Homo sapiens: one gene and its partners. The protein of the gene in region 1 purifies or fractionates together with the protein of each later gene. This does not show direct contact. Each region holds a gene or a part of one and is shown in the gene's direction. Other genes may lie near its edges.

Evidence for each region.
Region 2: the proteins of ARMC12 (region 1) and CORO1C purify together in Homo sapiens (affinity purification with mass spectrometry, with the first as the bait; one large-scale study listed by BioGRID). This does not show direct contact.
Region 3: the proteins of ARMC12 (region 1) and PTPRG purify together in Homo sapiens (affinity purification with mass spectrometry; one large-scale study listed by BioGRID and IntAct). This does not show direct contact.
Region 4: the proteins of ARMC12 (region 1) and DSG1 purify together in Homo sapiens (affinity purification with mass spectrometry, with the first as the bait; one large-scale study listed by BioGRID). This does not show direct contact.
Region 5: the proteins of ARMC12 (region 1) and MYH10 purify together in Homo sapiens (affinity purification with mass spectrometry, with the first as the bait; one large-scale study listed by BioGRID). This does not show direct contact.
Region 6: the proteins of ARMC12 (region 1) and FBLN1 purify together in Homo sapiens (affinity purification with mass spectrometry, with the first as the bait; one large-scale study listed by BioGRID). This does not show direct contact.
Region 7: the proteins of ARMC12 (region 1) and HBA1 purify together in Homo sapiens (affinity purification with mass spectrometry, with the first as the bait; one large-scale study listed by BioGRID). This does not show direct contact.

What each region holds. Positions count from the first base shown.
Region 1 is NC_000006.12:35,740,032-35,743,531, forward strand, and holds part of ARMC12 (armadillo repeat-containing protein 12), read left to right. Parts: intron 1-3,500. UniProt on the Homo sapiens protein: Essential for male fertility and sperm mitochondrial sheath formation. Required for proper mitochondrial elongation and coiling along the flagellum during the formation of the mitochondrial sheath.
Region 2 is NC_000012.12:108,658,519-108,662,018, reverse strand, and holds part of CORO1C (coronin-1C), read left to right. Parts: intron 1-3,099; coding exon 3,100-3,281; intron 3,282-3,500. UniProt on the Homo sapiens protein: Plays a role in directed cell migration by regulating the activation and subcellular location of RAC1. Increases the presence of activated RAC1 at the leading edge of migrating cells.
Region 3 is NC_000003.12:61,568,071-61,571,570, forward strand, and holds part of PTPRG (receptor-type tyrosine-protein phosphatase gamma isoform 1 precursor), read left to right. Parts: intron 1-3,500.
Region 4 is NC_000018.10:31,324,660-31,328,159, forward strand, and holds part of DSG1 (desmoglein-1 preproprotein), read left to right. Parts: intron 1-1,921; coding exon 1,922-1,957; intron 1,958-2,214; coding exon 2,215-2,346; intron 2,347-3,500. UniProt on the Homo sapiens protein: Component of intercellular desmosome junctions. Involved in the interaction of plaque proteins and intermediate filaments mediating cell-cell adhesion.
Region 5 is NC_000017.11:8,620,726-8,624,225, reverse strand, and holds part of MYH10 (myosin-10), read left to right. Parts: intron 1-948; 5' UTR 949-979; coding exon 980-1,324; intron 1,325-3,500. UniProt on the Homo sapiens protein: Cellular myosin that appears to play a role in cytokinesis, cell shape, and specialized functions such as secretion and capping. Involved with LARP6 in the stabilization of type I collagen mRNAs for CO1A1 and CO1A2.
Region 6 is NC_000022.11:45,526,883-45,530,382, forward strand, and holds part of FBLN1 (fibulin-1 isoform D precursor), read left to right. Parts: intron 1-964; coding exon 965-1,127; intron 1,128-3,500. UniProt on the Homo sapiens protein: Incorporated into fibronectin-containing matrix fibers. May play a role in cell adhesion and migration along protein fibers within the extracellular matrix (ECM).
Region 7 is NC_000016.10:175,223-178,022, forward strand, and holds HBA1 (hemoglobin subunit alpha), read left to right. Parts: upstream 1-1,457; 5' UTR 1,458-1,494; coding exon 1,495-1,589; intron 1,590-1,706; coding exon 1,707-1,911; intron 1,912-2,060; coding exon 2,061-2,189; 3' UTR 2,190-2,300; downstream 2,301-2,800. UniProt on the Homo sapiens protein: Involved in oxygen transport from the lung to the various peripheral tissues.

The sequences.
Region 1 (3,500 bases):
GGTTTGCAGTAACAAAGGACACTGCTGTCACTCAGGAAATTCCAAAGGTTTCAGGAGCTCTGTTCCTGGAACTAGGGACAAAGATCAGATGTATTTTTTATACTCTATCCCCTGGGCCTGTGTTAATCAGAGGTTGGTGTCATGGCCACGGATAACTTCTCCATTACTCCATAGACAAAATGTAAAACACCACATGTCACTTCCCCCTTTCCCTGCTATCATACCCCCAAACTTACAGTATCCACACCCATCCTCCCTGCTTTCCTGCTGCTGCCATGAAAAAAATGGCTTTCTCCTGGTCTGTGGCCAGTGATAGTCTCAATCCTGCCTCCCACCCCTTCCTTAAGGGCCTCTCTGATTGCTTACGCTCCGCTCCCCCATCAGCATGCAGTAGGCTCCAACCCCTCCCATCTTACAAAGCAAAACCAAAAAAGCCTCTCCCTTGACCTCCACATCTCTTCCTGGCAAATAGTCTATCTCTCCCAAATTAAAAACAAATAAAATATGTAAAACTTGCAAATATTGTATATGTGTAAGTTAGAAGGAATAACAATAAAACAGAACATGCCCAGGCCAAGAAATAGAGCACAGCCCCCTCCCACATCTTGGCTGCCTCCCCCACCAGAGGCAGTCATTACCCTGCATTTTGTTTAGCAGTTCCAAATTTTCTTTGTAGTTTTACCATATATGTATGTATCCTTGCATATTCTAGCAGGGCATAGCAGATAATAAAGAGGTAAAATATAGTCTGGTATGTTTTTAAGCTTCATGTACATGGAAGTAGATGGTTTCTATTCTGTGGTTGGCCTTTTCTCCCTGCTACGTGGAGAGATTCATCCTTATTGGGCAGCTCTGCTTCCTTCTGGTTTTTTTTTTTTTTTTTTTTGAGACAGGGTCTCGTTCTGTCGCCCAGGCTGGAGTGCAGTGGCGTGATCTTGGCTCACTGCAGCCTTGACTTCTCAGGCTCAAGCAGTCCTCCCACCTCAGCTCCCCTAGTAGCTGGGAGTACGGGTGTGCTCAGTGAGTACGGGAGTACTATGTTTCTCAGGCTGGCCTTGAACTCCTGGGCTCAAGCAATTCTCCCCCCTGGGTCTCTTTCACCGCTCTGTGGTGGTCTCTTTCGTGAATACTCTGCCACTTGCCCGTTGTTAGGCATTTGCATTGTTTCCAGGTGCTTGTCACACTCACATTGTGCTGTGAACATTCCTGTGTTCGTCTCCCTTGTGTGCCTGAGAGAGGATTCTAGGGTGTGTATGCAGGAGTGGAATGGTTTGGTCAAAGGGTATGCCCAACTTTTCCAGGAGGGAGGTATCCATTTTCACCCCACCAGCCCTGCACGAGTGTTCTATTGTGTCATAACCTAACGTTTGATAATTTCACATTTTAATTTTTTTTTTTTTTGAGACAGAGTCTTGCTCTGTTGCCCAGGCTGGAGTGCAGTGGCACGATCTCGGCTCACTACAACCTCTGCCTCCCAGGTTCAAGCAATTCTTGTGCCTCAGCTTCCAGAGTAGCTGGAATCACAGGCGTGCGCGCACCACCATGCCTGGCTAATTTTTTTGTATTTTAGTAAAGACAGGGTTTCACCATGTTGGCCAGGCTGGTCTCAAACTCCTGGCCTCAAGTGATCTGCCTGCCTCGGCCTCCCAAACTGCTGGGATTACAGACATGAGCCACCATGCGTGGTCCACATTTTAATTTTTGGCATCAAACTTTTTTGGGGAAAAAATTCTCTTTACATGTATCCTCAAAATATGCACAACTATGATATATCAATAAAAGCAAACACACAAAAGAATAAAAATAGATTGAGAAACAAACAGAAAAAAATACCTAGAGAGATCTCTGCTTGCTGCCTCATCCCTCAGCCTTCTCAAGTGCAGTGGTACGATCTTGGCTTACTGCAACCTCCACCTCCAGGACTCAAGTGATCCTCCCACCTCAACCTCCCTAGTAGCTAGGATTACAGGCATGCACCAATATGCCCGGCTAATTTTTGTATTTTTTTAGAGGTGGGGTTTTGCCATGTTGTTCAGGCTGGTCTCGAACTCCTGAGCTCAAGTGATCCACCTGCCTCAGCCTCCCAAAGTGCTGGGATTGCAGGTGTCAGTCACCACACCTGGTCAGGCTGTGATTCTCAAGCATATTATAATCACCTGGAGAGCTTGTTAAAAGCAAAGATTTTGGCTGGGCGCAGTGGTTCAAGCCTGTAATCCCAGCACTTTGGGAGGCTGAGGTGGGCAGATCACCTGAGGTCAGTTCGAGACCAGCCTAGCCAACATGGAGAAACCCCGTCTCTACTAAAAATACAAAAATTAGCCGGACGTGGTGGCGGGCACCTGTAATCCCAGCTATCCGGGAGGCTGAGGCAGGAGAATCACTTGAACCCGGGAGGCAGAGGCTTGCAGTGAGCCAAGATCACGCCACTGCACTCCAGCCTGGGCCACAGAACGAGACTCTGTCTCAAAAAAAAAAAAAAAAAAAAAAAAGCCCAGGGAGTTCAGTTCAACAGGAGAACTTTGTTTTTCACAAATCCCCCAGGAAATTCTGATGCAGGCGGCCTGAGTCCCACTCTTCCTTTTTTTCCCCAGTGTCTTTATGCTGAGGGCCTGACCCCTGGTCTCTTTTCAGGTGAAAGTAGTTACTCCTTGATCTCAATTTCCATCTAGCTGTGCCCTTCTGGATCTCTGCAGCCTGTGGGCTCCCCTGCCTTCCCCATGGGCAGCTGCTACTAGGCATATCCACTTAGATGCCCTCCAAGTTCTCTAACCCAACATATCCAAAATGGAGCTCACCCCATTCCCTGAATCAGCCCACTCTCTCCAGAGGGCTCTTAGGCCATCAGGCCCTTTGGGTCTGCCTCAAGGCTCTCAGCATAAAGTGCGTGATTGGCCATGGGCTGCACCTCCTTGCCCTAACCCCAGCCACGTACAATGCATGCTTTATGCTCTCACATGCCCCCTTGCTGCTGTTCCCTCGTTCTGAAACCCTGTCCCAGACTTGCTGACTCCAACCTGTCCTGCGGGTCGCCACGGCTTTTGAGGGGTGGGGGAAGGGAAGGGCAGGTACTGATGGGAATGCTCACTTCCACTCCAGGACTCTTGCTTACTTCTTACATGGCTCATAAAGGTGCAGCTCGTGAGGTTACCTGTCTTTGGTAATGCCTCTAGGTCCAAGCATCTTACTTTTTTTTTTTTTTTTTGAGACGGAGTTTCGCTCTTGTTGCCAAGGCTGGAGTGCAATGGCGCGATCTCAGCTCACCGCAACCTCCGCCTCCCGGGTTCAAGTGATTCTCCTGCCTCAGCCTCCCGAGTAGCTGGGATTACAGGCATGTGCCACCACGTTCCGCTGATTTTTTGTTTTTGTAGTGGAGATGGGGTTTCTCCATGTTGGTCAGGCTGATCCTGAACTCCCAAGCTCAGGTGATCTGCCCACCTTGGCCTCCCAAAGTGCTGGGATTAAAGGCGTGAGCCACTGCGTCCTGCCCGCATCTTGCATCC
Region 2 (3,500 bases), on another chromosome or scaffold:
AGCTCAGCGGTCCTCCCCTTGTCTTCCACTCTTGTGGCTCTCTGAGTGGGGGGAAGCAAATGTGTTTTGGTTGTGTGCTATATGGTTTTAAAGCAGATTATTAGGAAACCATGGTGAAGAGTATTGGGGTGCACTGCTCCCCCAGCCCACATACATACTTGTGTGTGTGTGCACGTGTGTGTGTTTCAAGGCCATTTCGACAACCTGAGGAAAGCTATGAATTTCCTGCTATAATTTCAGCAGGTTTCATGGTTCCTGCCAGGGCCCTCCATGAACCATAGTTTTGGTTATTTCTGATATGGTAGAAGGTGTACTTTGTTGGGAGCCAGAAGCCCTGTGTTCCCTCTGTGGTGTTGCTGCCAGCTTTGGGAGACCCCTATTAGGCAAATACACTCCTTCCTTTTAAAGAAAACTTTGATTTTCCCCTGCTATACAATTAGTACATGTATACTGTAGAGAACATATATAAACAAAAGGAAAAAAAAATCACTTTTAATCCCACCACTCAGAGAGAAGATCATTATTACTTTTTTGATGTTTCTTTCCGAAAGATATTTCTGTGCACATACATAAATTATTTTACATACAGAGATGGGTTCATACACTTTACACATGGGCTGCTTTCTGCACTTGGTGGTAGGCTGTGACCCTTTTCACGTGCCATTAAGCTCTCTTCCTATTTTTAATGACTTCATACTAATCCATTTTCTGGATATACCTCATTTTACTTGATAAGTCCCCTATTTCTGGACACTGGTGTTGTACAGAAATCTTTTCCTTTATCTAAAATTGGAGATTTCATTTTCTTTTATGAAAGCAATACAGAGAGCATGAGGGAACTTTGTGGGGTGATGGAAATATTCTGTATCTTGATCATAGTAGTGGCTACATGAGTTTATACATTTGTTGAAACTTAGCAAATATATACTTAAAATGGGTGCATTGTATTGTATGTAAGTTATACCTTAATAAAAGTGGTTTATTTAAAAAGTGATACTAATGTTAGAGATAGGATTTTTAAAGGTCTTTCCCCTCACCAGTAAAAAGGAGGAGGGGCAGTTCAGTTTTTAACTGGGAATACACAATGTTTATGACTCATAGTGAGTTAAATAAAAAATTATAATGCCAAGTAACTATTGAAACTAAGGCCCACTTTTCAAAAAAGATGCCATGTTTTTTATAATCACCATCGACTATACTTGGGAATCATTTTTGATGTTCTCTCAGAACCTCAGTCTGATTAAGGAGAGGAAAAAAATTCCAGAGCTGGAATTCCTTCATGGAAAATTCCCTGCTACCTTTCTCATCAAGGCTCAATACAGGGCAGCAGCAACAGACTGGTCTGCATTCTCCCTTTTACATGTGAAGGAGAATGGGTGATTGTCGTGTTCTGCATATTTTTAGGCTATATGATCCAGCTGCCGGGGCTGAAGTTACCTGTTTGCCTATAGGGAAGAAGGCAGAGGAAGGTTCAATTGTCCATCCCAGAGTTTAGCTTCAACTTTTGTTACTGTTGTGTAGTTTTTTTCTCCAGTTTCCTACTTCTTTTTTTTTTTTTTTTTTTTTTGAGATGGAGTTTCGCTCTTGTTGCTCAGGCTGGAGTGCAATGGCATGATCTCAGCTCACCGCAACCTCCGCCTCCTGAGTTCAAGCGATTCTCCTGCCTCAGCCTCCCAAGTAGCTGGGACTACAGGCATGTGCCACCACACCTGGCTAATGTTGTATTTTTAGTAGAGACAGGGTTTCTCCATGTTGGTCAGGCTGGTCTCCAACTCCTGACCTCAGGTGATCTGCCCGCCTCGGCCTCCCAGGGTGCTGGGATTACAGGCGTGAGCCACCGTGCCCGGCCAGTTTCCTACTTCTAACCCTTAGGTAACTTAAGTATCCTGGATGTTAGTGACTATTTTTTCTAAATGATTTCCAAATTGCTTTGTTGGCAAGAATCCACCTCTAGGATGTCCTTCCCGTATTTTGCTTCATCCTTGAACTAACATCCTAGGAGCAACACATGCTGCCTCTTTTTAAAGGGGCCTGGAGGCGTGGGGCAGACCCTTGAAGGAAGGAAGGAGTTGGTGAGCTGAGATGGTGAATGAGTTGACATTGTGGGCTTCTTTCAGAATCCGTTTCTGAATCTATGTAGCTACTTGATTACAGTTTGGGCTTCTCACCATGATCAGAGCAGTCTTGGCCTATTTTTCTCTTCATTTAAAGGTACAGATCTGTTGTGAGCAAACAGGCCTTACTCTTGGCTTTTCCCTTCCACTGTTGTACCATCTTTAATATCCCAAAGCTGTGTCTTAGAGTCTCACTGATTTGAATAACCTGCCACCCAGAGTTTTTGTTGAGTGCCCTAAACAGTCATTTAAACCTTTTACTTTTAGTTTATTTGGCACGTGAAAAGGGTCACAGCCTACCACCAAGTGCAGAAAGCAGCCCATGTGTAAAGTGTATGAACCCATCTCTGTATGTAAAATAATTTATGTATGTGCACAGAAATATCTTTCGGAAAGAAACATCAAAAAAGTAATAATGATCTTCTCTCTGAGTGGTGGGATTAAAAGTGATTTTTTTTCCTTTTGTTTATATATGTTCTCTATAGTATACATGTACTAATTGTATAGCAGGGGAAAATCAAAGTTTTCTTTAAAAGGAAGGAGCGTATTTGCCTAATAGGGGTCTCCCAAAGCTGGCAGCAACACCCTGATGCTTGTTTTACTAGAAAGGGAAACTTGAAGTCACTTGGGTCTACCAGCCCAGTTAACTCTTTAAAGAAAATAGGGTTCTGTTTTGGTGTGGTTCTTTGTTTTTGTTTGGTTGATTGTTTCATATGAACCCAAACTTAACAAGTTGTGTTTTTACTTTAACACTTTTATTTCTTTTATACAAACTTTTTCCTTTGTCACTTCAGTTTTTAACGCTGTTAGTAAGTAGGGCCTCTGGTAGGGCCTCTGACAATCAGCCGCATCTTTTCTCTCTCTCTCTTTCTCTCTCTCTCTCTCTGCATATACATATGTGTATTCTCACTGTATCTGTAGTTTTCTGAGTGTGTTACATAGGTGTTTCTAATCTTCTAATCTCTGATGGTTTTGCCTGTTTTAGGCTGTGATAATGCCATTATCATCTGGAATGTGGGAACAGGGGAAGCCCTTATAAACTTGGACGATATGCATTCAGACATGATTTACAATGTGAGCTGGAACCGGAATGGCAGTCTGATCTGCACAGCTTCCAAAGACAAGAAAGTGAGAGTCATTGATCCCAGGAAACAAGAGATTGTTGCTGTGAGTATTCCTAGGATGAAAACTCAGTAGTTGGAGCACTTGAGTGAGTGTGAGCTTTCTGCTTTTTAAGGCAGGCAGCGGTACTGGTCAGTGGGACCCTGTTGTGTGTAGACACCAACTGTGAATAAGAGAAGGCTTATAAAGGCTTCTGTCTCCCCAGTTGTGCTTCTCTCCAGAGTTGTAAATTTTCCAGCTTTTACTCAAGTCTCTCACTTTGTA
Region 3 (3,500 bases), on another chromosome or scaffold:
TAAAAAATCAACTATACTTGTGTAAAAAAGAGTTATCGGACTTGGCTTTGACTTATTTTTGGTATTGTGTTTATGTGGAGTTGTAACCAACAAAATCAATAAAAAGGATAAGTATATTCCAGAAACCTGTATTTACGTCTCCTTGCTTTTCCCTACAATTTGCCTGTTGCAAATTTCTAAGAACATGGGATTGTTAATGTCTCTTTAAAAGATGTCTTAAAGTAATACAGGTAAATTTCACTGTCAGGAAAGTCTGTGATGATTGAGATGTAGAACAGATAAATTTGTGGTTAACTCAGTATGAAAAGGATTGTTAGGTATAAGTGATGGCTGTGCAAGATTGCTTTAAGTAGCTAGAGGGCTTCTTGAGTGATTGTCCCCTTCTATTGGGACAACTATAATTGGAGGGACCATTTCACCTGGTATCATTTGTGGCAAGATATTTGGTGTTTTGACAGAAAAATATATTCTGTGTGAGATAGCTTGCTGGATCTATGCAGGCCTAAGGTTTTTATGATTGCAGCCCTTAATACAACTGTAAAAAAAATTTTTTTTTTGGCCTGGCATGGTGGCTCATGCCTGTAATTCCAGCATTTTGGGAGGCCCAGGCGGACGGAACATGAGGTCAAGAGATTGAGACCATCCTGGCCAATATAGTGAAACCCTGTCTCTTCTAAAAATACAAAAATTAGCTGGGCATGGTGGTGCACACCTGTAGTCCCAGCTACTCGGGAGGCTGAGGCGGGAGAATTGCTTGAACCCAGGAGGCAGAGGTTGCAGTGAGTTGAGATTGCACCACTGCACTGCAGCCTGTGCGACAGAGCAAGACTCCGTCTCAAAAAAAAAAAAAAAGATTCGTTTTAAGTGCTTCCAGGGATAGGAAGAGGAATGACAGCTGATGAGGTTTCTATATGTGCCTGGTTTCTGTTTTGGAAGCCTCCCAAACGGAATTGGGTAGTGTTTCACTTGTACTTGTGGTGGGTGTGGGGATGGAGGTAACTTACACATTGAATGAAAACTTCATGTGTCAGCCAGTTGATGAGAGTTGCCATACTATTTTGTCAGCATGTAGCAGGAAGAAAAATCTTTTAGGAGCCTGGAACTTGTTAATGCTTTTCTATTTGTTTTCTAAACTAGGTGGCTATTGAGAGTTATACAGAACATAGCAAAATAGGTAAGAATATGGCCTCTGGAGCCAGCCTACCTGTGCCATTGCTAGCCGTGCTACCTTAGAAAAGTTACATACCCTCTCTGTGCCTCATTATTTTTTTCTTCCTCTGTGAAATGGGGTGGTGATAGAAGCCTAACTCCTAAAGTCTTTGTGAGGCTTGAATGAGAATGTATATAAGGACTTAGTGCTGTGCATGGTAAACAGTAAGTGCTCAATAACCATTTTTTTAAATCAAAAGTTTTATATGTTTATTTTTATAGAGACCGGGTCTCTCCCTGTGTTGCCCAGGCTGGTCTTAAACTCCTGACCTCAAGTGATCCTCCTACCTCAACTTCCCAAAGTGCTAGGATTACAGGCCTGAGCCATTGCTCCTGGCCACCGTTTTTAAGTGTTCTTAAGAGATTTGGATAGGAGTGTATGGAAAGCGGACGGTGGAACTGAAAAGGACAACTGTATGTATAGACAACTTTTTGAAAAATTGTATAAACATACGTGATGGGTTTTTGTATCTGTCTTTGCTGTTGAGGGTGAGGAGGAGTAGGGATCAGCATGGGGACATTCTATGTAAGATTACTAACAGGTTACATTTTGAGGTTTAAATAAATGAGAAAGTCCTCATGAAGTCTGAGATATCACCTTGCCCACATTGCAAAGGAGGTCTCTGCTTTCTCAGCTTAAAGTGGGAAAAATGCTTTCTGTGGGCTTAAAATGTGTCTCATAAGTCTTCCAAATCCCTGTGTAGAAAGAGTCGCCTAGTCCTGCACCCTCAGATGTTAATTCCTCTTCTCAGGCTTTATGGACAGTGTGGTAATGGAGGGAAATAGGTTACTCATTACTGGGATTCAATTTGGCTCCACTGATGGGAAGCAAACAGTAGTTGGGTGTTTGCTTTTATTTTACACTTGTGTGACACTTGAACACATTGATGTCCTGTCTCTATATGTTCATGGATTCAGAGCTACAGAGCATATGAGAGAGAACCAAACACTGATGCACACCTCGTACCCTCTAATCTTTTCTTTTTTTTTTTTGCAGACTGAAATCAGCATGATATTTTTCTGGCCAAACAACAAAATGTGATTTTAAACTACTCAGTTTAGCTATTTTTGGGGAGTAGCAAAGTGACACAGTTGGCTGCTGAATTCTAGCAACTAAAAAAGAAAAAAATGAAAGCATAGTTCATGGAATATGTAACACTTCCATGTAAGAAAATAGGACAACTGGTCTTATTTTTGGGTCTGTGATACTGTCTTTCTAAGTGAGTGAAGCAGGGTGTTGTATAATGCAGTGGATATACTTTTGAGGAATTCATACTAGTTACAATATACATCTAAGAGGTATTTGAGTTTTCATAGCATTGCTGCCTCATGAATCCTGCAGTGCACTTAAATCAGATCTGTTCATTAATTGGGAATGATTTGGATAAGGGGACACAGCCATAAGCAATTGACCAAGCATAAAAGCATAGTCCAGATTAGTGAGGAAATATTACTGACTTTTTAAGGTTGTCTCGAGAACTTTTTAAGAATTGTCAAAAGGATTTATTTACAAAGCGGTGGTTATTTATAAATGAGTTCTACCTGTTTTTAAAATGACACTTTTCCAGAAGCGTTTCTCTTCAGTAAGTGTGGAGGCTTAGCTCTGTCTGTGGGTAGCTAAGGGTGGTTACCCAACATCTTACGGAAGTGGGGTTGGGTGGCGCTGGGGCTCTGGGAGTTTCAGATATACATATCTCTTATTCAGAATCCACACCAAAACCACAGAGACCTGGGTTGAAATTCTTAGTTCATTACAGCATTTACCTTGGGCAAATGGGCCTCACCCTTTTAATCTATAAAATGGGAATAGTAATTATAATAGCCTACGCTTACCAAGCACATGTGATCTATGCCCCGTGCTTGAGCATTTTATATGCTTTTAATCATCCCTGGAAGTATGAACCATGATTATTTCCACTGTAGGGTTAGGAAACTAAAGTTGAAGAAGGTAGGTCCAAGGTCACCGGGGTAGCAAGGCGCGGGGAGCGGTGGGGGGCGGTGACTGTAATATGTTTCTCTAATCATTGCTCAGGATTTTTTTTAAATTTTATTTCAGACCATTTGCTTTTTGAAGAGAGTATGGAAACTATTTTTCCTAATTGCACAGGAGGGCCAATTGAAAGATCTAGCTTTTTATGTATTTCACCCTGTTACTTTTCCCATATAAGCAAGTGCCATGAACACTGGGTGGAATAAAGGTGTCTTCCTGTACTTGCTACAATTAAATAAGTAAGTAATGCAATTAGTATAGGATTTTATTTGGTTACGTTGAAGAGATGACCTTTCAGCAA
Region 4 (3,500 bases), on another chromosome or scaffold:
TGTTCTCAAGCCCTGCCAATGCTATGCTGCAGTATCCCTTGATCTTTCCCCATCCATTCCCTCTGTCTCTGCTCCAGCGTACCTCCTTCTCACCTCCAGTCTGCTTTGATACAGAGACCCTCAACTGCTCACCGTCTGTAATCACTGCCTCTTCCCACTAGTCCTACCAACTGTTGTCAGAGTTAGCTTTAAAACCACAATTTTATCATGCTCTTCTCACATCTAAATACTTCAATATTTTCCTACTGCACACAGGCATTTAATATTACAGCTGGAAAGTTACCTGTATAAAATTTAGTCTACTCTTGTCATTTTACAAGTGAGAAAACTAAAGTTCAGAGAATTGGGGAAATACGTTGAAGATTTTCCAACTCTATCAAGAGTCAGATTTCACTATTTTGCCTTTGAAAGTCCAAGAGTGACTTTGTATCAGAGTTTATTCTAGACTCTGAGCAACAGAAAATAAGCTTACACCAACCCACCACATTTTTAAGCAGACTTGGCGGTTTTTAGATTACAAATCCAGTTGAGAGTCTGACTGTATGGTGAAAGCTACTTGGTCTTCTGCCCAAATTGTCTCTCATGGGAAAAAGAGTGACCCAGCTTCATAAAGCTGGAAAGATTTCTTAGTCATCTGCATAGCTTTCCAAAACAAACAGCAAGCACTGGCGCTCCAATGCAGTAAGGGAAGCGCAATAACAGATAACAGATCCATGCACAATTCTGTAGCTATGAAGAAATGGCTTTCAAACACACAAATAAGGTATGCCCATCTCCCATCCCACACTCACAAACAAGAGAGAGGGAAAAGTGTTCATAAATTCACAGGCAGCAAGGAGCATGCATTTACATGAACACCATTTCATCATTTCAGTTCTGCACCCAAGATGGGCTCTACAGATAACATTTCAGTTACATGTTTTAAAATTTGGGCCATTTACTTTTCTTTTTTTTTTCTTCATGCTGTATTCCTATTGTCGTATGTAAATATCACCAATCACAAGGATAATAGGTTAGTTTAAAATCAGAATTTTTTGAGTTCTTGAAGTTGCAATATAAATTCTTTGTAGCATGCTTTTCTTAGTAGTAATTTACTTGAGGGAATAGGCTATCTCATATTTTATTGTAAAACCCACAGCTCAAGTGAAAATTTATGCTAAATTGTATTGAATTATATTTAGCCATAGGTTAATATCCAAGACTCAATTTCCTCATCTGTAAAATGGAGATAGTATTAGTGGTGACCACATGTATTTGTTGTAAAGATTAAGTGCATAGATTTACATAAATACATAACCTAATACCTAGCTATTATTTAACAAATTATAAGAGTAATAACAATCATAATTATTAATATTAGATACACAATGGATATGTAATTCTCATAATAAAAACATTATCTTTTTATACTTCTCATATTGATCATAAATACTTATTTTCTGAATTATCTATTGTGGCAATTTTTTTAAAGTAGATACTTAGAGACATTAAGTTCATATTTTCTTTAATGCTACAATTAAAATTAACTATAAAAAGAACTTTTTTATATTTTTAAATTACTACTGTTAGTATTTTTAAATGTAAACTATAATTTTCTTATATCAGTTATACAAATAAAGTTTTCATACTTTGCAATTCTGAATAAATTCAATTAAAAGTTAAAAATTTCTTATTTAGGGAGAAATACAAGTACAAAATAATAGTAATAAAAAGAAGAGTAAATTGAAAGGTAAAAACAAAAATTCTTAGCATCATCATCAGACCCAAGACATAAACCAAATCCACCTGCTATTTGGCTGATAAAATAATTTTAATGACTCACAAGCCTATGGTTTCATGTTGTTTTTAAAGTAACTGGATAATATAAATTTTAAAGCATTTAATTAAAAAATAACTAGTGTGATTATCTTATTTTTTACAGGTGGTGGTAGAAGTTAACAGTGAATTCCGAATCCAGGTAATATATAACAAATCCATTTTTCCAAATTTTTAAACAAGAAAATAATTTGAGAATAACAATATGTTTTCTGAAGAAAATGTATTCTCATAAGTCAAGTTCATATAATGCTAAAATTAATAGATTACCAAAATTACCAATTTTCCCAATTAAACATCCTCTATTTCTGAGATTATAACCTCTTCCAAAAATCTCAGTGGAATTTGAATTACGAATTCAAATTAATATATACCATTTCTTTATTGCTGTCATTTAAGGTAAGAGATTATAACACTAAAAATGGCACCATCAAATGGCATTCAATCCGAAGGCAGAAACGTGAATGGATCAAGTTCGCAGCAGCCTGTCGTGAAGGTGAAGACAACTCAAAGAGGAACCCAATCGCCAAAGTAGGTATCAACTCCAAAGCATAACATTGAAAATCAGAATGGATAAAGTTTCAAAAGAAACTGTCTGCTAAATATTTCATGAACATGTCTCACCGAGAAGCTACGATACAGAACAGAACTATAGTCACCTAGATGATGAAAACTGAAACTCATAAGGAGAAATTAAGAAATGCAGGTGCTCAGAGAAACAGGCAAACGTTGACTCACCTCATTGGTGAAATGCATACACATGATCATGTGTTATCCCAAACTCCAGATGAAAAAAGATCATTATTTTAATAAAGAATTTGGCTTTCAGCACATTCAAAGGAATTACTTCAATGTGTGCTCTTTTTGCCTCACAATGTATTAGAATTGAATTCCTACTTTTTTGTTTGTTTATTAACATTCACAAGGTGCCCTCTCTCATACCCCTTTTCTATTCATTTTTCCATATCTTCCTTTCTACATACACACACACTCAGAAACACCCCCCACAAATTCATGAACATACAGATGTACACGTCCACAGATACACACACGAATATACACATTCATCCACACAGACACTCACAAATACTCCCCACTAGGATTTGTTTACAGCCAAACAATATTTTATTTCAAAGAAAGAGTTCTGGTTTCTATAACCATTTATTCGCGTGGTCTCCTTCCTTTTCTGCTAATACACCCTTCCCATTTTCAGAATTCAGAGCTTCCACTCAAACCCAGATAACTCTTGTCACCTAAATAAATCTACTTTCTTCGAAAACTTTACATTTAAAACAAATTGAAGATTAAAGTTGCATGATGACAACATTGATAAACTCCTTAAGAGGGCAAAGAGTTTCCTTCTGTAGCTCCAGTGCAAGCACAGACCCTGCAAATAATACAAGATCAAATTTTAACTGTTGAATGAATGAAGTCATGCATGATGATTGCATAGACTTAGATATAGTAGGGTGATATTTCGCATTTTTTCATGTTTCATAGAAGCAGAAACCGAATTTCTTTGATTACATTGTCAGTTACCATTGAAAATATTAGAGCTGTAATTGTTACTCTTATCTAGGAAAATAATCTCCATTGACAACATTTCCTAAATAACAAGGTCATCACATGCAACAACTCTCAAGAAAGCTGTCGTATATCAAATATAGAACTCTATTTGCTCCCTC
Region 5 (3,500 bases), on another chromosome or scaffold:
TGCTAGCCCTTTGTGAGCCAATGGTAAATGGGTGCTAAATAAAACAACTAGGTCTTGAGATACATTAATTGTAAATGTCACAGAACCAGTACTTTCCTCAATGTGGCTAAGATAGTTGATGGTTCCTTTTTCTTCTGCACTGGTCAGACCATATCTGGGCTATGATGTTTGCTTCTGGGCCACACACTTTAGAGGGAAGACAAGCAGCATGTTGGAGTCTGTTTAGGCGAGAGATCCGGCAGGGGAAGGAGTCTTGGTGAATGAGGGGTGGAGGAGCTGCAGGATGGGAATAGAGGCCTGAACTGCTACCATGACATATTCAAAAGGCTGCCGTGTGAAGCCAAGTTATGCTTGTCTTTTGTGGTCCCAGTTGATCACATTAAGACCTCATGGGGCCATAGAAAAGCTAGAGGGAGACTGATTTGGGTTATTCATAAGAAGAACTTTAAGTCTGTTATCTGAGGGTAGAATGAGAGGCATGTTTTAGATTCTTTAGATTCTTTACTCTTCTGACAATCATGTGTTTTTGTAGCTGTTTCCTTGTGGTCATATTAATTCTGGTACCACTTCATGAACCTTTTATTACCCATCTTTGTTTTCTTTTTTTTTTTCCCTTCTTAACTCCCTGTTTAATTTGTGGTGAGGGTGAAAGAGGAGATAAAGAAAAAAAAGGGTCAACTTGTAACTTTGCCTTTTCTTTTCTTTTCTTTTCTTTTTTTTGCCCTCAGTAACTGAGGGCAAACCCATCAGACAACCAGAGCCATAATTTGTGGTCACCGCTGAAATTTACCTTGGAAACTCGGTTAGTATGGCTGTGAAGAGGTATACCCCAGCTCCTTAACACAGAGTTAATGCTTAATCTAAGGTTTTAAGTTTCTTAGAAAAGAAAAACGTGTACATTCTTTTGTTTCTTAAACATCTAATTTTGCCCTCCTCCTCTTCTCTTAGAGGCAATTGCTTTTGGATCGTTCCATTTACAATGGCGCAGAGAACTGGACTCGAGGATCCAGAGAGGTATCTCTTTGTGGACAGGGCTGTCATCTACAACCCTGCCACTCAAGCTGATTGGACAGCTAAAAAGCTAGTGTGGATTCCATCAGAACGCCATGGTTTTGAGGCAGCTAGTATCAAAGAAGAACGGGGAGATGAAGTTATGGTGGAGTTGGCAGAGAATGGAAAGAAAGCAATGGTCAACAAAGATGATATTCAGAAGATGAACCCACCTAAGTTTTCCAAGGTGGAGGATATGGCAGAATTGACATGCTTGAATGAAGCTTCCGTTTTACATAATCTGAAGGATCGCTACTATTCAGGACTAATCTATGTAAGTATTTCTTCCAAATAATCATGTGAAGTGGTAGCTAGGAATTAATGTAAATTATACATCTTGTCATAATCAAATGAGAATGTGGAATACCCAAACTCTCTGTTTAACATTTCTATTTCTCTTTAAGATAGAAAGATTTGTTGCTTGCTTACCCATGTCTTGCTTTTCTTTGAATCTTAACACATTAAGTTTAAATAATACAGGCTGCAATTACATATAATAAAATGGCATTTGAAGACTTTTGTAGTGGTCTTCTGGAGCATAATAAGGTGGGAGAGAGCATGTAACAGGAAGACCAGAAGGTTTAATAAGGTAAAGAGAGTTGCATTAATTGGACGCAGACAGCAAAACGGTCAAAAATCAAGTGCATACCCAAGAGTAAAGTGGAGGGGCTGTAAGCTGAGAAATTTCTGTGGACAGCATGAACAGCTTCACTGGATGTAGTAGGGAAGTAGGAAAGATGAATGCTGAGGTTTTTAAGAGGAAACAATTAGGGTAAGATTGAGGCTGGCTGGGGTCGTCCTGTGGTTAGCAGCTGACATGAATGTTGGAGTCACCGACTTTGTCACTGACCATGTAGAAGAAGTTATTGAAAATCATAAGGGATAATGTAGAGAGGGATAATGTAGAGAGGAAAAATGTAAGCCAGATACTAAAAGAAAAATCTAAAATGACAAAATAGGTTTGAGGGAATGGTAGACAGAGGTGGCAATGATTTGAAGAAGGTGGCACGTGTGGGACTTAAACTGACGATGAAGGGAAGTAGGAAGAAAAGTTGATGGTCGTGGTTTGAAATCGGAAAAGGGGTGTTGAATTTTACACAAGGAGTGTGCTACTGAAGGTCATGAATAATTCAAAACTTCAGTAAATCAGAGCTAGTTTTCCTACAGAATTAGTTTAAGGAATATTTATTAAGCACCCCCTGTGCTCTAGGTGCTGGGGATAGTACAGTGAAGAAGACAGGCCAGGTCTCTCTGCCTTTCTGAAATGTCCAATGAGGAAATGAAACAAGGCTATGGAGAGAGTAAGTAGGAGAATGGCTTTCTCCAGCGGGTCAGTTAAGGGCTGTTTGTGAAGGTAGCATTTGAGCTGGAGTCTGACTGGTGGGAGGCAGCTAGCCACGAGAAAAGCTGAGAAAAGAATGATTCATTCATGACCTTTGCCAGAGTAGTTTCAACCAAGCCTGATAGATCTCCCTTATTTTCTTCTCTATGAGGTAGGAGAGTAAGAGGCCACAGGGTTGGAACGGTGGCTTGAGGAGAATGGAAAGGCTTAGGAACAACCCTTTTCCAATTTCAGACTAAGCCAGGGATAAGAAAGCGACTGGAGAGTGGCGTTGAGAGTCCAGCTGAGATTGAATAACCACGTGTAGGGTGACCGCAATTTTGCCTGGCTATGTGATTTTGCCAGACCATGGGATTGTCTCAGGTCTGTGAGTGTGGGGGGCTTTGGATCTGCATGGCTTCCACAGTGAGAGGGGGATTCAGTGGCCGTCTTTGGAGTCCTCGTTCGGTAGGAATGGGAGTCTGGGTGGGAGGGGCTGATGGATCAAGGCCTGGAAGTTTTCAGAATGTTGAGGAACAGGGATCATGGGGTGAAGGAGTGAGAAAACTGCAAAATTAAGAGGTTATGGTCAGATTGTAATGTCGACATGTAAGATTTGAGAGGTTGATCAGTTTCAGATGAAGCCCATTGCAATAAATTGTGCAGGTATGGAAATGTGATGTCACCATCAAAAACTGTGCAGTGTGAAGAGGAGCCAGGCTGCTTTTCTGCCAGCCTTCACCTTAATTTCCCACACTGGCAGCTGGAGGTAGCTGCAAAGGGTGCTAAGTAGAAAAGGAATGAAAGAAAGGACAGGTGTTTTTTTGTTGTTTTTGTTTTTGTTTTGCAGCCATTCCACATAATTCAGAGATTTTACAGTTATCTCTTACTGAGTTTGTTGGATTTTTTTCCAACTTAACTCATGGACAACCTGAGTGAACTTCTGAGTTTCTTTTCAAAGCACAGCCTCCTTCTACAGGAGAATCTGAGTTTTTCTCAAAGTCTCAAGGTCACACAGAGGTCGGGGTTTGGGAGGATCATATCTTCAATTAGTTGGGTGGAGAAAGGGTTCTTACCTAAGGTTCTAGTTGGAGAACTTGACTCCAAAGAAGTCTGTGTCGTTAAGAGG
Region 6 (3,500 bases), on another chromosome or scaffold:
GGCACACAGCTGTGCCCATGTCCCCAGACTTGAGAGGTGTGGAAAAAGCACAGAACATTCTAGCAGGAGTGGGAACAGATCTCTCTGGCAGATGAGCGACTTGTGTTTCCAGGAAGGATTACTCACACCCCAAAAGATGGATGAGGTGACTGATGCTCCCTACACTTTCTGGCAGCGGAGGGCGTAGAATAAGCAGCCTGGAAGACCCATCAGTGCCACATAACTGAGGCAAAGCTACACCTCCTGGCTCCTGCTGGGGACTGTTTAGAAAGTTCTGTGCTCCTCTTAGGATAACCACTTAATAAAGACTGAAGCAGGGCTTTTCGTGTGTCAGGGCAAATGTTGCTTCTGGGACTCAGGTGTGAGGCCACAGGGACTTGGAAGTAACTATTGGGACCTGGGCCCAGGTGGCAGACAGCCACCCTGTCCTTTGACCTTGCTTGATGACTCGTCTTGAAGTTCCTGTGCTTTCAAATGCACGGTGCAATTCCTGCTGCCAGAACCCCTCTAACTCAAAAACGGAGAGGCAGCATGCATGTGTGTCATTTTTCCGGGCATGGTAGAGAAATCTCAGACCATGCAAAAGGAACAGAACTTTGGAGCTGGTGCATGGTGCTATAAGAAGCTCCCTCTTCCTGGATGTGTGCGAGCAGAGCCGGGTGGTCTCTGGGCGGGGCAGGGATGTTGAGGGGTGCAATTGCATGTTGGGGTGGGGAGGGGAGGTGGATGCCAGGCCCTTTAAGCTTCCTTTCAAAACTGGGACCTAGATGATTTGGAGTAGGGGGATGGCCTTGCTTTGCTATTTGTTGCTGACATTTAGAAGTGGTATCTAAGCCAGACTTGAGTCATCACTCTACAGGTTGTGTGGACAGGGGGCTCAGAGAGGCCTCCCCTGAGGCCTCTCGTGGACCCCGCTGGGCTGTCTGCCCGCTCCTCCATCTGGGATCTCCACCTGTGTTTGCAGAGGTGCTGCCATTGCTGTCTGCTGGGGAGGGCGGCCCAGGCCCAGGGCCAGAGCTGCGAGTACAGCCTCATGGTTGGCTACCAGTGTGGACAGGTCTTCCAGGCATGCTGTGTCAAGAGCCAGGAGACCGGAGATTTGGATGTCGGGGGCCTCCAAGAAACGGGTAACTTTCCCCCTTCCTTCCCTAATGAGCAGTGTATTAAGGTTCTCCGGGATGTGTATATAGAGCGAGAGTGGAGAGAGAGAGATTTTAAGGACTTGGCTCATGTGATCGTGGGGCTGGCAAGTCCAAAATCTGCAGGGCAGGCCTTCAGGCTGGAGCCCCAGGGAAGGAGGGGCATTGCAGCTGGAGTTCAAAGGCAGTGTGCTGGCAGAACGCCGCCTTTCCCGGGGAGGCCAGTCTTTTTTCTCTGAAGGCCTTCTGCTGATTGAGTGAGGCCCACCCATGGTATGAAGATGATCTGCTTTTCTCAGCATCAACAGACTTACATGTTAATCTCTTTTTTTTTTTGAGACAGAATCTCTCTCTGTCACCCAGGCTGGAGTGCAGTGCAGTGGTGTGATCTTGGCTCACGGCAACCTCCGCCTCCCGGGTTCAAGTGATTCTTGTGCCTCAGCCTCCCGAGTAGCTGGGATTACAGGTGTACACTACCACACCTGGCTAATTTTTGTATTTTTAGTAGGGATGGGGTTTCACCATGTTGGCCAGGCTGATCTGGAACTCCTGACCTCAGGTAATCCACCTGCCTCAGCTTCCCAAAGTGCTAGGATTACAGGTGTGAGCCATCGTGCCTGGCCAATATTAATCTCTAAAATATAGCTTCACAGCAACATCCAGGCTAGTGTTTGACTAAATATTTGAGTACCATACCCCAGCCCAATTGACACTTACGATGAACCATTACAGGTAACACGTGCATCCGTGTCACCATTGCCTTAACTCAGCACGGACTAACTCCGGTTGTCGGAGCCATTCATGTTTGTGACCTTATCTGAAAGCCGCTGTCCTGGAGTGACGCTGAGTGCTTGGAGTCTGGGATCGGACAAATCTGTGCTCCCATCCGGGTCCTAATGTGTACCTTGGTCCCCTCATCTGGGAAGTGGGGATAGTTGCAGTCCTACTTCATCAGGTGCTGGGAGGATGGAGTGCGAGATTGGGTGTCAAGGGTTGGGTAGAGCACCTGGCCCCATAAATGTCTGCCCTCACCATCTGCCCTTGTCCCTTCAGCTGCCCGGGGCAGCATGGGTGGCTGGCCTTGCTCCCACTTCTTGGGTGAGGGTCTGATGCTGAAGATCGCACAGCCGACACGTGGAGGAGGGAGAGCCTGGCCTTCCACCTCCTGGCCAGTGCCCTCTCCATCTGGAGCTGACGATGTATGGGCGAGCAGCTGGGGGCCATCGCTGGCTAATAGCTGGCTATGCTCTGTCAAATCATAGACACTTACTCAGCAAAGGGGCATGTGACCCCAAGAGCAGCTTCAAGAGCGCTCTCAGCTGTGTGCCCCCCCGTTCTGTGTCCTCGCCCTGCATTTCTGTGTGGTTCAGTTACAGGGTTCAGGAGACTTTGTGGCTGTCCAGTAGCCTCTTACACTTAGGCCACGGTTTCTTGTGCTGTAACAGAATTAACCTGGAAGAAGGCAGGACTCCGCCTGGGCCAAGCTTGCTGTGTAGTTTTCGGCCTGTTCCCTCCTCTCTCTGAGCTTTGCCCCCACTCTCTTAAAAAATAAAAGAGGTGTGAGCTGGGCACGGTGGCTCACGCCTGTAATCCCAGCACTTTGGGAGGCCGAGGCAGGCGGATCACCTGAGGTCAGGAGTTCGAGACTAGCCTGGCCAACATGGGGAAACCCTGTCTCTACTAAAAATACAAAAATTAGCTGGGCGTGGTGGCGGGCGCCTGTAATCCCAGCTACTTGGGAGGCTGAGGCAGGGAGAATCGCTTGAACCTGGGAGGCGGAGGTTGCAGTGAGCCGAGATGGCGCCATTGCATTCCAGCCTGGGTGACAGAACGAGACTCAGTCTCAAAAAAAATAATAAAATAAATAAAGAGGTGGGGAGGTGCCGGAAGGGGCGAAAGGGAAGAACCCTCAGACCTGTAGTCTCTAAGTCAAGGTAATGGCTGTAGGGTCCTGGGTGACACGGAACCTTTCACTTCTTGTTCTTAGGTTTTCAAGTCCAGGCTGTAGGGCCCCTGGTCACAGAGGACCCGGGTCACCCGGGACTCATCTTTCACTTATTGTTCTTAGTTTTTCAAGTCCAGGGCCCCATGGATGCCACTGAGATGATTTCAGATGTTACAGTCATCAAGAGGGATTGGGGCCGCATTCTGCCTCATTCCTTGGCTTTTGAAATCAGAGACGACATTTTCACTTTAAACAAACCCAAACCATTCCTGCTGGTGGAGGATTTCTCCTGCATCTCGGGGGTGGATTTTCACTGATTTATGTCTGCAGCGTGAGCAGTCTCTGGGCTTTTCTGCAGCTCCAGATGTTAGATGTTTTATCTCTCCGTCTTTTATCTGCTTCAGTCCTTGCCCCAG
Region 7 (2,800 bases), on another chromosome or scaffold:
GCAGGGCCTGAGTAAGGGCCTGGGGAGACAGGGCAGGGAGCAGGCTGAAGGGTGCTGACCTGATGCACTCCTCAAAGCAAGATCTTCTGCCAGACCCCCAGGAAATGACTTATCAGTGATTTCTCAGGCTGTTTTCTCCTCAGTACCATCCCCCCAAAAAACATCACTTTTCATGCACAGGGATGCACCCACTGGCACTCCTGCACCTCCCACCCTTCCCCAGAAGTCCACCCCTTCCTTCCTCACCCTGCAGGAGCTGGCCAGCCTCATCACCCCAACATCTCCCCACCTCCATTCTCCAACCACAGGGCCCTTGTCTCCTCTGTCCTTTCCCCTCCCCGAGCCAAGCCTCCTCCCTCCTCCACCTCCTCCACCTAATACATATCCTTAAGTCTCACCTCCTCCAGGAAGCCCTCAGACTAACCCTGGTCACCTTGAATGCCTCGTCCACACCTCCAGACTTCCTCAGGGCCTGTGATGAGGTCTGCACCTCTGTGTGTACTTGTGTGATGGTTAGAGGACTGCCTACCTCCCAGAGGAGGTTGAATGCTCCAGCCGGTTCCAGCTATTGCTTTGTTTACCTGTTTAACCAGTATTTACCTAGCAAGTCTTCCATCAGATAGCATTTGGAGAGCTGGGGGTGTCACAGTGAACCACGACCTCTAGGCCAGTGGGAGAGTCAGTCACACAAACTGTGAGTCCATGACTTGGGGCTTAGCCAGCACCCACCACCCCACGCGCCACCCCACAACCCCGGGTAGAGGAGTCTGAATCTGGAGCCGCCCCCAGCCCAGCCCCGTGCTTTTTGCGTCCTGGTGTTTATTCCTTCCCGGTGCCTGTCACTCAAGCACACTAGTGACTATCGCCAGAGGGAAAGGGAGCTGCAGGAAGCGAGGCTGGAGAGCAGGAGGGGCTCTGCGCAGAAATTCTTTTGAGTTCCTATGGGCCAGGGCGTCCGGGTGCGCGCATTCCTCTCCGCCCCAGGATTGGGCGAAGCCTCCCGGCTCGCACTCGCTCGCCCGTGTGTTCCCCGATCCCGCTGGAGTCGATGCGCGTCCAGCGCGTGCCAGGCCGGGGCGGGGGTGCGGGCTGACTTTCTCCCTCGCTAGGGACGCTCCGGCGCCCGAAAGGAAAGGGTGGCGCTGCGCTCCGGGGTGCACGAGCCGACAGCGCCCGACCCCAACGGGCCGGCCCCGCCAGCGCCGCTACCGCCCTGCCCCCGGGCGAGCGGGATGGGCGGGAGTGGAGTGGCGGGTGGAGGGTGGAGACGTCCTGGCCCCCGCCCCGCGTGCACCCCCAGGGGAGGCCGAGCCCGCCGCCCGGCCCCGCGCAGGCCCCGCCCGGGACTCCCCTGCGGTCCAGGCCGCGCCCCGGGCTCCGCGCCAGCCAATGAGCGCCGCCCGGCCGGGCGTGCCCCCGCGCCCCAAGCATAAACCCTGGCGCGCTCGCGGCCCGGCACTCTTCTGGTCCCCACAGACTCAGAGAGAACCCACCATGGTGCTGTCTCCTGCCGACAAGACCAACGTCAAGGCCGCCTGGGGTAAGGTCGGCGCGCACGCTGGCGAGTATGGTGCGGAGGCCCTGGAGAGGTGAGGCTCCCTCCCCTGCTCCGACCCGGGCTCCTCGCCCGCCCGGACCCACAGGCCACCCTCAACCGTCCTGGCCCCGGACCCAAACCCCACCCCTCACTCTGCTTCTCCCCGCAGGATGTTCCTGTCCTTCCCCACCACCAAGACCTACTTCCCGCACTTCGACCTGAGCCACGGCTCTGCCCAGGTTAAGGGCCACGGCAAGAAGGTGGCCGACGCGCTGACCAACGCCGTGGCGCACGTGGACGACATGCCCAACGCGCTGTCCGCCCTGAGCGACCTGCACGCGCACAAGCTTCGGGTGGACCCGGTCAACTTCAAGGTGAGCGGCGGGCCGGGAGCGATCTGGGTCGAGGGGCGAGATGGCGCCTTCCTCGCAGGGCAGAGGATCACGCGGGTTGCGGGAGGTGTAGCGCAGGCGGCGGCTGCGGGCCTGGGCCCTCGGCCCCACTGACCCTCTTCTCTGCACAGCTCCTAAGCCACTGCCTGCTGGTGACCCTGGCCGCCCACCTCCCCGCCGAGTTCACCCCTGCGGTGCACGCCTCCCTGGACAAGTTCCTGGCTTCTGTGAGCACCGTGCTGACCTCCAAATACCGTTAAGCTGGAGCCTCGGTGGCCATGCTTCTTGCCCCTTGGGCCTCCCCCCAGCCCCTCCTCCCCTTCCTGCACCCGTACCCCCGTGGTCTTTGAATAAAGTCTGAGTGGGCGGCAGCCTGTGTGTGCCTGAGTTTTTTCCCTCAGCAAACGTGCCAGGCATGGGCGTGGACAGCAGCTGGGACACACATGGCTAGAACCTCTCTGCAGCTGGATAGGGTAGGAAAAGGCAGGGGCGGGAGGAGGGGATGGAGGAGGGAAAGTGGAGCCACCGCGAAGTCCAGCTGGAAAAACGCTGGACCCTAGAGTGCTTTGAGGATGCATTTGCTCTTTCCCGAGTTTTATTCCCAGACTTTTCAGATTCAATGCAGGTTTGCTGAAATAATGAATTTATCCATCTTTACGTTTCTGGGCACTCTTGTGCCAAGAACTGGCTGGCTTTCTGCCTGGGACGTCACTGGTTTCCCAGAGGTCCTCCCACATATGGGTGGTGGGTAGGTCAGAGAAGTCCCACTCCAGCATGGCTGCATTGATCCCCCATCGTTCCCACTAGTCTCCGTAAAACCTCCCAGATACAGGCACAGTCTAGATGAAATCAGGGGTGCGGGGTGCAACTG